Regions from separate parts of the Homo sapiens genome. Here all the other regions are linked to region 1. Evidence: fine-mapped expression QTL. A gene starts in region 1. Each other region holds a variant in brackets. All regions are shown on one strand. Distances are between the middles of the regions.

Region 1 (2,756 bases):
AGGCAGCCACCCCTATGCCTGACTAATTTTTGTATTTTTAGTAGAGACAAGGCTTTGCAATGTTGACCAGGCTGGTCTCAACCTCCTGACCTCAAAAGATCCACCCACCTCAGCCTCCCAAAGTGCTGGGATCACAGGCATGAGCCACTGCATCCAGCCACTTGCCATGCATGGCATTTAAAAATGTTCAGTAAATGTTACCATAATGAAGGCTGGTAGGTTGGCCAACTGAGTGGTCTGATTCAGAAGGAAAGAAGTTAGACATACGTGAACATTTCCTGTACTTGAAGATCCTCAGGACAGTGACTCCTAGACCCATCTTCCATCACAGTCAGCTGGGAAGCTTTTAAAAAAATGCAGACATCTGACCTTCACGCTAGACCTATTAGCCAAGCAGAAGTTTCTGGGCAGGGCATCTGCATATTTTTAAAAATCTTTAATAAGGCAGCCTCAAAATTACAGATTCAGCACGCATTTACCATAACCACTGAAGAAATGCAAAGTTATAAAAAGAAGATAAACAACAATCTGTCTCCTGCTTTCTTCCCTCTCCTCCCCTGCTTCTGGAGGCAACAAGGTCAACTATTTGGTGTGATTCCTTTTAGCATTCCCTCCATCAATGGTCACATAAGGATGCTCACAGATAAGCACCTATGCGGGGGTTTTTTTTTTCCTTGTAAAACTATTCACATACTAAATACTTTCCTCAGTATCTTGCCTTTTTTCACTTCATGTCACAGAAACATCTCTTCAGGTTTATAGATACAGGTCCAGCTCTTCTTTTCATAGCCATATAACATTCTGTAGAATAGAGAGGACACATTTTACTCAGTGTCCGATTGATGGATATCAATATTGTTTTCATTTCTACAAATAGTCAAGGAATAACATAACTCTGTAAAAGTTTTATTACTTATAGGCGCATTTATGCCTAAAGGATAGTCTCAAAAGAGTGAAACTGATCAAATGTGCATTTTTTTATTTTAATAGGTATGGACAGATTTGTTCTCAAAATGTTTGTGGCAGTTCAAAACACCAGTAAAACAGGGGAGATATGTATTTTGGAAAAGCACCCAAGGCGATTCTGAAGTGTAGCCCAGGATAAGAACCATTGCCCAGAGCTGTTCCAGATGGCCCCTGGGTTCCTGAAGTGGGTATCGGGAGAGAAATCTTCACTGAATGAATGAGTGGGCTCCCCAGGGAAGTGATGAAATGGTCCTTATCAGCCTTGCTATCTCCCTCTGACAGAGGCAAACTCTCTCTCCCTGGGGGAAGTTCCTCCAAGGCCTCTATATAAGAAGTCTTTGTGAGAGGAAGCAAAGAAGGACCTGGGCTTTGGGAAGATCTAAAGACCCAGGAAGGTCTCTGGGTGGGTGAGTGCTTTCTCTGCTGTGGTGGAGCTGGTGACAGTTTATTCTCCCAGGAGGTCCCTGGCTGTGGCTGACAGTTTCTGGAGGGCTGGCAGGCGTCTACCTGTGGCTTTCAGGTTATGAGGATGTCAGCAGGGGCAGCCTTCATCCTCTGCCTTGCACATTCCTTCTGCGGGATGTGAAAGTGCTCCTTGGCTGGGGAAAGGAGATGGTGGAGACATGGAGGAGGGTGTGGGTGGCTTCTTGAACTCTGAGGAGGGGACATACCTTCTAAGTCCTATGTGTTCCTAGGAAAGCCAATAATCATTGCTTCTCCCGCCTTTTTTATGTCATAGACTCTGAGGGACCCATTAAGTACAAACAAATAAGCGTAATAGTCCCTTCTTTACTTCCGGGCCTGAAGGAAAGCCAGCCTCAGCCACCCCTCAGGGTTTGCTGCGTTCTGTTTAGAAAGAGGTCCTTGCGTCCTGGATCCTGGAGCATCAGGAGCTGGGCTTGGCATGAGCTTTTCTGGCCCATCCTGATTTCTATTCAGGCCTTCTTTTTCTCCACCTCACTCCCACGGTCCCCTAATGGTGTGATTGTGATGTGTGTGCATGTGTGTCTGTGTGTGTCAATGACAAACTGTGTTCTCCGTTGCAGGATAAAGCCAAGATGAAACTCCCCTTACTTCTGGCTCTTCTATTTGGGGCAGTTTCTGCTCTTCATCTAAGTAAGTGTTTTTTGCCTTCAGTCTTTCTTTCTCTGTTTTTTCCCTTTCTATGGTAGATGGGGTCAGAGTTACACACCCACCCCCTTCTTTGATCGTCTTCTATTTCTGAATTTCTGTGTGCTTAAAGGGATGGGGACTCTATGGCCAGGAGTTGAAAGGATTTCTCAAGGCGTCTGTTATGTCTGTGGTCTTGGTTCTACTGTGACATTCCCAATTTTGTCCTTTCTCCATTATGCTTACTTTGAGCTTACTGAGTGCCTTCTCTCCTTTAACTCTCTTAGCATCGCCATGAAGTAGGTGGTATTGTATACCCATTTCACAGAAATACAGCTGGTGGATGATGGAACCAGTACCCAAGCCCATGACTGCCCGACTCTAAGTCCATGCTCTTAACCACCTTGACCTTGTCAGGCAGCTTGGGTTCCCCTCATAGAGACTGGGTTCCAGGTTCCCCTTCCCAGGCAGAGTTGAGCACTCTGATGCCCAGGGCAAGGTGTGAGCTGTCTGTGGTTCTGGGGAGGAACAAGGGGAGATGTGAAGGAAGGACACTTAGCTATCCTCCCTGCCAGGGTCTGAGACTTCCACCTTTGAGACCCCTTTGGGTGCTAAGACGCTGCCTGAGGATGAGGAGACACCAGAGCAGGAGATGGAGGAGACCCCTTGCAGGGAGCTGG
Region 2 (2,756 bases), 110 kb before region 1:
TGGTCTCGATCTCCTGACTTTGTGATTTACCCTCCTTGGCCTCCCAAAGTGCTGGGATTACAGGCTTGAGCCACCGCACCTGGCCGATCTTCTAACTTTTTAAAGAGAAGCAAGACATCTGGATTTTTATGTGATAACTCCTGATTTTAAACTGGCACCCAATTATAATTTACAACACTATAAGGGTCAACATTGCCAGCAGAGCAAAACATGGGTGGGGGCAACTGCTGGTCACCGGTGTGCAGCCTCTGGTCTAAAATCATCTTTGTATTTCTTCTTGCTTTACGCATTGTCCCAGCACAGTGCTGTTGTATAGTAAATATCCAGTAAGTGGGTGTAGAATGAATAAACCAATGCAGATAAACCTGTAGAGAGGCCGGGCACAGTTGCTCATGTCTGTAATCTCAGCACTTTGGGAGGCCCAGGCAGGCAGATCACTTGGGCCCAGGAGTTCGAGACCAGCCTGGGCAACAGTTGAAACCTCATCTCTACAAAAAATACAAAAAGTAGCCAGGTGTGGTGGCATGCACCTGTAGACACACCTACTCAGGAGGCTGAGGTGGGGGTATCACTTGAACTCGGGAGGTCAAGGCTACAGTGAGCTGGGAAGTCAAAGGTGCAGTGAGCTATAATTGCACCACTGCACTCCAGCCTGGGAGACAGAGTGAGACCCTGTCTCAAAAAAAAAAAAAAAAAAAACCTGTAGAGAAATGACAGTGATCATAAAGATCACTAAATTATAGGGCTAGCCTGATCCCCAAAGGCTGTGTGGTCCAACCCCTAAGTGCTTCCTGGAGGTGTCTGAGCACTTTCCCCACCTCCTTGGCAGCTGGTACTGAAGAAGACTCTCTGTTGTCCAGGACAGTTCCTTCCATGGCTGGTCAACACTCAGGATCTGCCAGGCCTTTGTGTTCTTCCTTATGTCAACACACAGATTCCTTTATCTTTACTCTTCTGCCAACTGCATGACCTTTGGATATGTAAAGTCAGGGGTCATTTTCACTACTGAGGGCAGATGTCCTCTACCACCCCCTAGTATCCAGGCATTATCACATCCCCTTGTCCCCTTGTTGGTTTTTTTGTTTCCTTTTTCTTTTCTTTTCTTTTCTTTTTTTTTTTTTTTGAGACAGGGCCTTGCTCTGTCACCCAGACTGGAGTGCAATGGTGTGATCATGGCTCACTGCAGCCTCGACCGCCCGGGCTCAAGCAATCCTCCCACCTCAGACTCCCAGGTAGCTG[GA/A]ACTACAGACATGCATCGCCATGCTCGGCTGATTTTTAAAATTTGTTTTGTAAAGACAAGGTTTCCCAATGTTGCTCAGGCTGGTCTTGAACTCCTGGGCTCAAGAGATGCACCCACCTTGGCCTCCCAAAGTCCTGAGATTACAGGTGTGAGCTACTGCACCTGGCCTGGTTTGTTCTTTTAGCAGCACCTGTCACTCTAGAGCTGAGAACTTCCTGTCTCATGTAGTGTGGATGCCCAGCTCCTAGAGTACGTGCTTACCACATGACCCACCAGGAGGGTCAGCTACCCCTTCCTCAGATCCTTCAGGAGCACTTTCTCTGGGCCAGGCACTGTGCAAAGCTCTTTGTTTACTGTCTCCAATTTAATCCTCCTAAGGAGGTCGTGGGTTAGGCATTCTTTGGTCCGGTTTACAGACAAGAAGAAAGTTACTTGGTCAAGGTGCACAGCTAGTAAGGCTGGTGGTGGGAATTCAGACCCTGGTCTGTCTGCCTGCTCCAGGTGCACCCTGAGTTTGCCCTTGGCAGTGCTGCCAAGTGACAACTTGGAGGCCTGGGGGCAGCCACCTCATGACTCACTGAGCATTGAGTAAAGCGAAGCAGCCCTTTGTCTCCTATCACTAGCTTTTCTCCTTAACTTGTCACAACTCCAAGTTGGCAGTTTACCGTTAAGGACAAGTCCTCCAAGTGGACTTCTAGAGGGGACTGGAGGGCAGTGCCTGGTTCTCATTCTGTGCCTCAGCTTCATCACCTAGGGAACGGGATACTTTATTAACTGACTTATGGGGCTGTTGTGTTTAGAACAGTGCCTGGAGCATAGTTAAGTGCTCAATAAGTATTAGCTATTATTTTATCAGACTATCATTTATCGGGAAAGCTTCCTCTAAGTTTTAGTGTTCTTTCTAAATTTCTTTTTTTTATTTAGAGATGGGGTTTTACCATGTTGCCCAGGCTGGTCTCAAACTTGTAGGCTTAAGCGATCTGCCTGTCTCAGCCTCCCACAGTGGTGGGATTACAGGCATGAACTACCACGCCGGGCCATTTTAATGAATTCTTGTTATAGCCATTAGAGTACCACTCACTGCCTTTGCCTTTGCCTCTAGATATGGGGGCACTTCTTGTTGGGGGTCCACAACCCCCTAAGCTTGGACACTGAGTGCATATTACAACTTAGTAAATACTTTTATGTCCAGTATTTCATTTGAGCTAGTTGAAGCCTCAGGCTGTGTGTGCACAAGACTCTCCCAGGGTCAGGTACTAATGGCTGCCATTTCTGGAGCAGCCCCATCAGAGGAGATGTGACTCTAGGGTACCCCCAAAGGCACTTGGCATGGGATTTGAAAGCAGGCCGCCTGACTGTGGGCTGCTGTCTCCTGTGCCCAGCTGTTCCTGGTGTCATGTGCTGAGCCCTCCCTTCCCCCTCCTCAGCTGAGAGCAGCACCAACACCACCCAGGATGAGCAGCGCAGGTGGCCAGGCTGTGACCAGCAGGACGAGATGCTCAACCTGGGCTTCACC
Region 3 (2,756 bases), 36 kb before region 1:
AAATATGTTCCCTGCCAACCCAGCGGTCAAGGCAAAATGCACAAATAGAGTGTGTGTGTCCCTATGCCCTCATGTGCTGTCTGTGTGTCCTCTGGGTGCTGGGTGTGACATTTTCCCTAGGTGGGCCTGAGCGAGTAACAGCATTCAACTAACTTGGTTAGGGGAGGCAGAGGCAAGGGGGCTGGGAGGCTGAAAGGCAGCGAGGAGGGAGGGAAAGACACCGCTGGGGTTCTAGGGGGTTCTAGAGGGAGAAGTTTCAAGAGGGAGAGGTAAAAAGGGCGCGGGAGGCTGTGAGCAAGGGAAAAGAAGAAGGAAGTGATGGAGAGTGGGAGGTCTGCCCCAGCCCCTTCCGGGCGGGCAGGAGGGGGCGGAGGCGAGCAGGGGACTGGGAGGGGCTGCGAGAGGCGCGAATGCGAACCTGGCCCGTGCGGAAAGGGCGCGGAGAGCCCCGGCGCGGAGCAGGCGGGTAGGGCGAAGGGTCCCCTTTCGGGCGCCATGGGGCGCCGAGCGCGGCCTGGCCCCTCGGGCTCCTCTGCGGGGAGGGCAGGCCGCAGGCTGGAGCGGGGTGCGGAGGCTGGCGGGGAGCGGCCCCCGGAGGCTTTCCTGGTAGAAGTTGATGCGAGGAAGGGCGGCGGGGACCAGGTTTGCGAGTCCTAGGCGAGGGTCATGGGAGTTGGGGGTATTTCTGGCAGTAGAATGGCCTGCGTCGTGACTAAACTAGCCCTGTGACCTTGGGCAAGTTCCTGAAATCCATGGGAGCTTTTGTTTCATTGTCAGTAAACTGAAGATAACACCAACTTGGCAGCGGGAGTTTGTGTCTTCTGTATGAAATCTCCCTGCCTCTGCACCTGGTTGAGTTGCTGTCATTATTTTAGGGGACGGTATTCAGAATTCGAGCGCAGGAGCTCCGCTTCTCCACCTGCTCCCGGGGAGCTATTGGGTAAGTCGTTTATCTCACCTGTGACTCCAGGTGGCCATCAAGACCTGCCTCTCTACTTGCCACGTGGTTACTCAAATGCAGTGCCTAAGATGATGTATTGGAGTATTTATTCCCCACATTTGCTGCCAGCGGCCATGATCAT[C/T]CTGCCTCTTAATGCACCTCACAAATAACTCTAGTCTACCTTTCCCTTTCCCGCAGGCCTCCTCTTCCAGCAGCCTCTATCTTTATTCTACAGGATCCAGAGAATCACCCGCTGATGGTTTTTGCCCAGGCCTGAAACAACCAGAGAGCTACGGGAAAGGAAGGGCTTGGCTTGCCAGAGGAATTTTCCAAGTGCTCAAACGCCAGGCTTACGGCGCCTGTGATCCGTCCAGGAGGACAAAGTGGGATTTGAAGATCCACTCCACTTCTGCTCATGGCGGGCCAGGGCCTGCCCCTGCACGTGGCCACACTGCTGACTGGGCTGCTGGAATGCCTGGGCTTTGCTGGCGTCCTCTTTGGCTGGCCTTCACTAGTGTTTGTCTTCAAGAATGAAGATTACTTTAAGGATCTGTGTGGACCAGATGCTGGGCCGATTGGCAATGCCACAGGGCAGGCTGGTAAGGGCAGGGATGACTTTTCTAAGGAAGTTAAGTCTGGCTCCCACGTGGTGGCAAGGAGCAGGAAGGACTCTGCCCCCTGCCCACCCCTCTTTCTATGATGAGAGGAAGGGTCAGCAGCTCTCACCCCACTTGATCTGGGAAGTGCCTGGGAGGGAGGCACCAGCTCCTGAGGGGTAATTAGGGGCAGCCACATTTCAACTCAGCTTAAGGGACAAGTTTGCGACCGACAAGCTGTCTGAGGTGGAGGGGAGCCCAGCCTGTGTGCTCATTTGGCAGGAAGGCTGGGATGCATGGGAGACCTTTTTTCTACTCCAGACTGCAAAGCCCAGGATGAGAGGTTCTCACTCATCTTCACCCTGGGGTCCTTCATGAACAACTTCATGACATTCCCCACTGGCTACATCTTTGACCGGTTCAAGACCACCGTGGCACGCCTCATAGCCATGTAAGTCCCAAAGGCCAGCCCAGGCAAAGGTGGGTAAGAGGAATCCTTCAGGCAGCAGCCTAGCTTGGAGTGAAATCCAGAGTCAGACAGCCCGGCCACCCTGCCAGGCACCACACCTGCAGCTCGCTCCCAGCAGCTGTTAGGAACAGCCCCAGGCAGCGGGACTCTCTCTAGACTTGCCCACTTCACCACAGCCCCACTTCCATTTCCTTACCTCGTTCCCTGCTCTGCATAAATGTGGCTTCCCTATCACGTGCTGAATTGAGCCGGAGGCCAGGGTGACTTCCTGTAAGGGCTGGCTTGGAGCCAGGGTTACAAAATTAGCAAAACCTAAAATTGCTCTTCTCTTCCTTCACCCCAAGGATCCTTGTCCTCATCCCCTGCACAGCCTCACATCCAGGTTGCCCAGGCTTCATCCTCATCCTCCTCACCGCCCCCCCTCCCCGCCCCAACAGCCAATCACTCCCTAGGGGCTTAGCTAATAGGAAGTTTCTTTGGTATTGCCACTGGTGGAATTTCAGGTCCCTTCTGACTGGAGGGGAGACTGGGGGGGTTTCCTGTGCAGATGAGTCAGAAGGTTCGGGACGTGATCTCACACACAGTGTGTTGCTGCATCCTAATCTCGTGCTCTGTGGCCAGGCTCAGTGGTAATCAGCGGCCTGCTGGGGGCTGATACAGCTCAGAGCAGGTGCTCCCAGGGAGGCACATGTGAGATTGGCTGTCAGAGAGAGAGACGGGAGGGCTGGCTGGGCCTGCCTTTCCGGAAACA

Direction of the effects. Positions count from the first base shown, and alleles are read on the strand shown. Sizes are in standard deviations (SD) of each study's normalised expression. Not every link is listed here.
For the expression in sun-exposed skin of the gene that starts at base 1,319 in region 1, allele T in region 3 goes with a higher level than allele C (small effect, 0.24 SD a copy in GTEx).

Evidence for each region.
Region 2: its variant is fine-mapped to the expression of PRG2 in unexposed skin (GTEx, PIP 0.96).
Region 3: its variant is fine-mapped to the expression of PRG2 in sun-exposed skin (GTEx, PIP above 0.99).

Annotation. Positions count from the first base shown.
Region 1 is chr11:57,389,213-57,391,968 of GRCh38, reverse strand. PRG2 (proteoglycan 2, pro eosinophil major basic protein) reads left to right here and starts at 1,319. Exons shown (of 6, transcript NM_002728.6): 1 at 1,319-1,373; 2 at 2,013-2,082; 3 at 2,652-2,756. The coding sequence starts at 2,025.
Region 2 is chr11:57,501,241-57,503,996 of GRCh38, reverse strand. It overlaps SLC43A1 (solute carrier family 43 member 1), which reads left to right. Exons shown (of 15, transcript NM_003627.6): 3 at 2,668-2,756. Among named protein-coding and RNA genes, the nearest start is that of SLC43A1, 13 kb to the left of the region's middle. RefSeq lists an enhancer at 2,386-2,756. The variant GA/A (reference allele first, on the strand shown) is at 1,240.
Region 3 is chr11:57,424,772-57,427,527 of GRCh38, reverse strand. It overlaps SLC43A3 (solute carrier family 43 member 3), which reads left to right and starts at 407. Exons shown (of 14, transcript NM_199329.3): 1 at 407-466; 2 at 876-940; 3 at 1,176-1,539; 4 at 1,858-1,987. The coding sequence starts at 1,356. RefSeq lists a silencer at 288-647 and enhancers at 890-1,682, 791-1,990, 1,683-2,475. The variant C/T (reference allele first, on the strand shown) is at 1,083.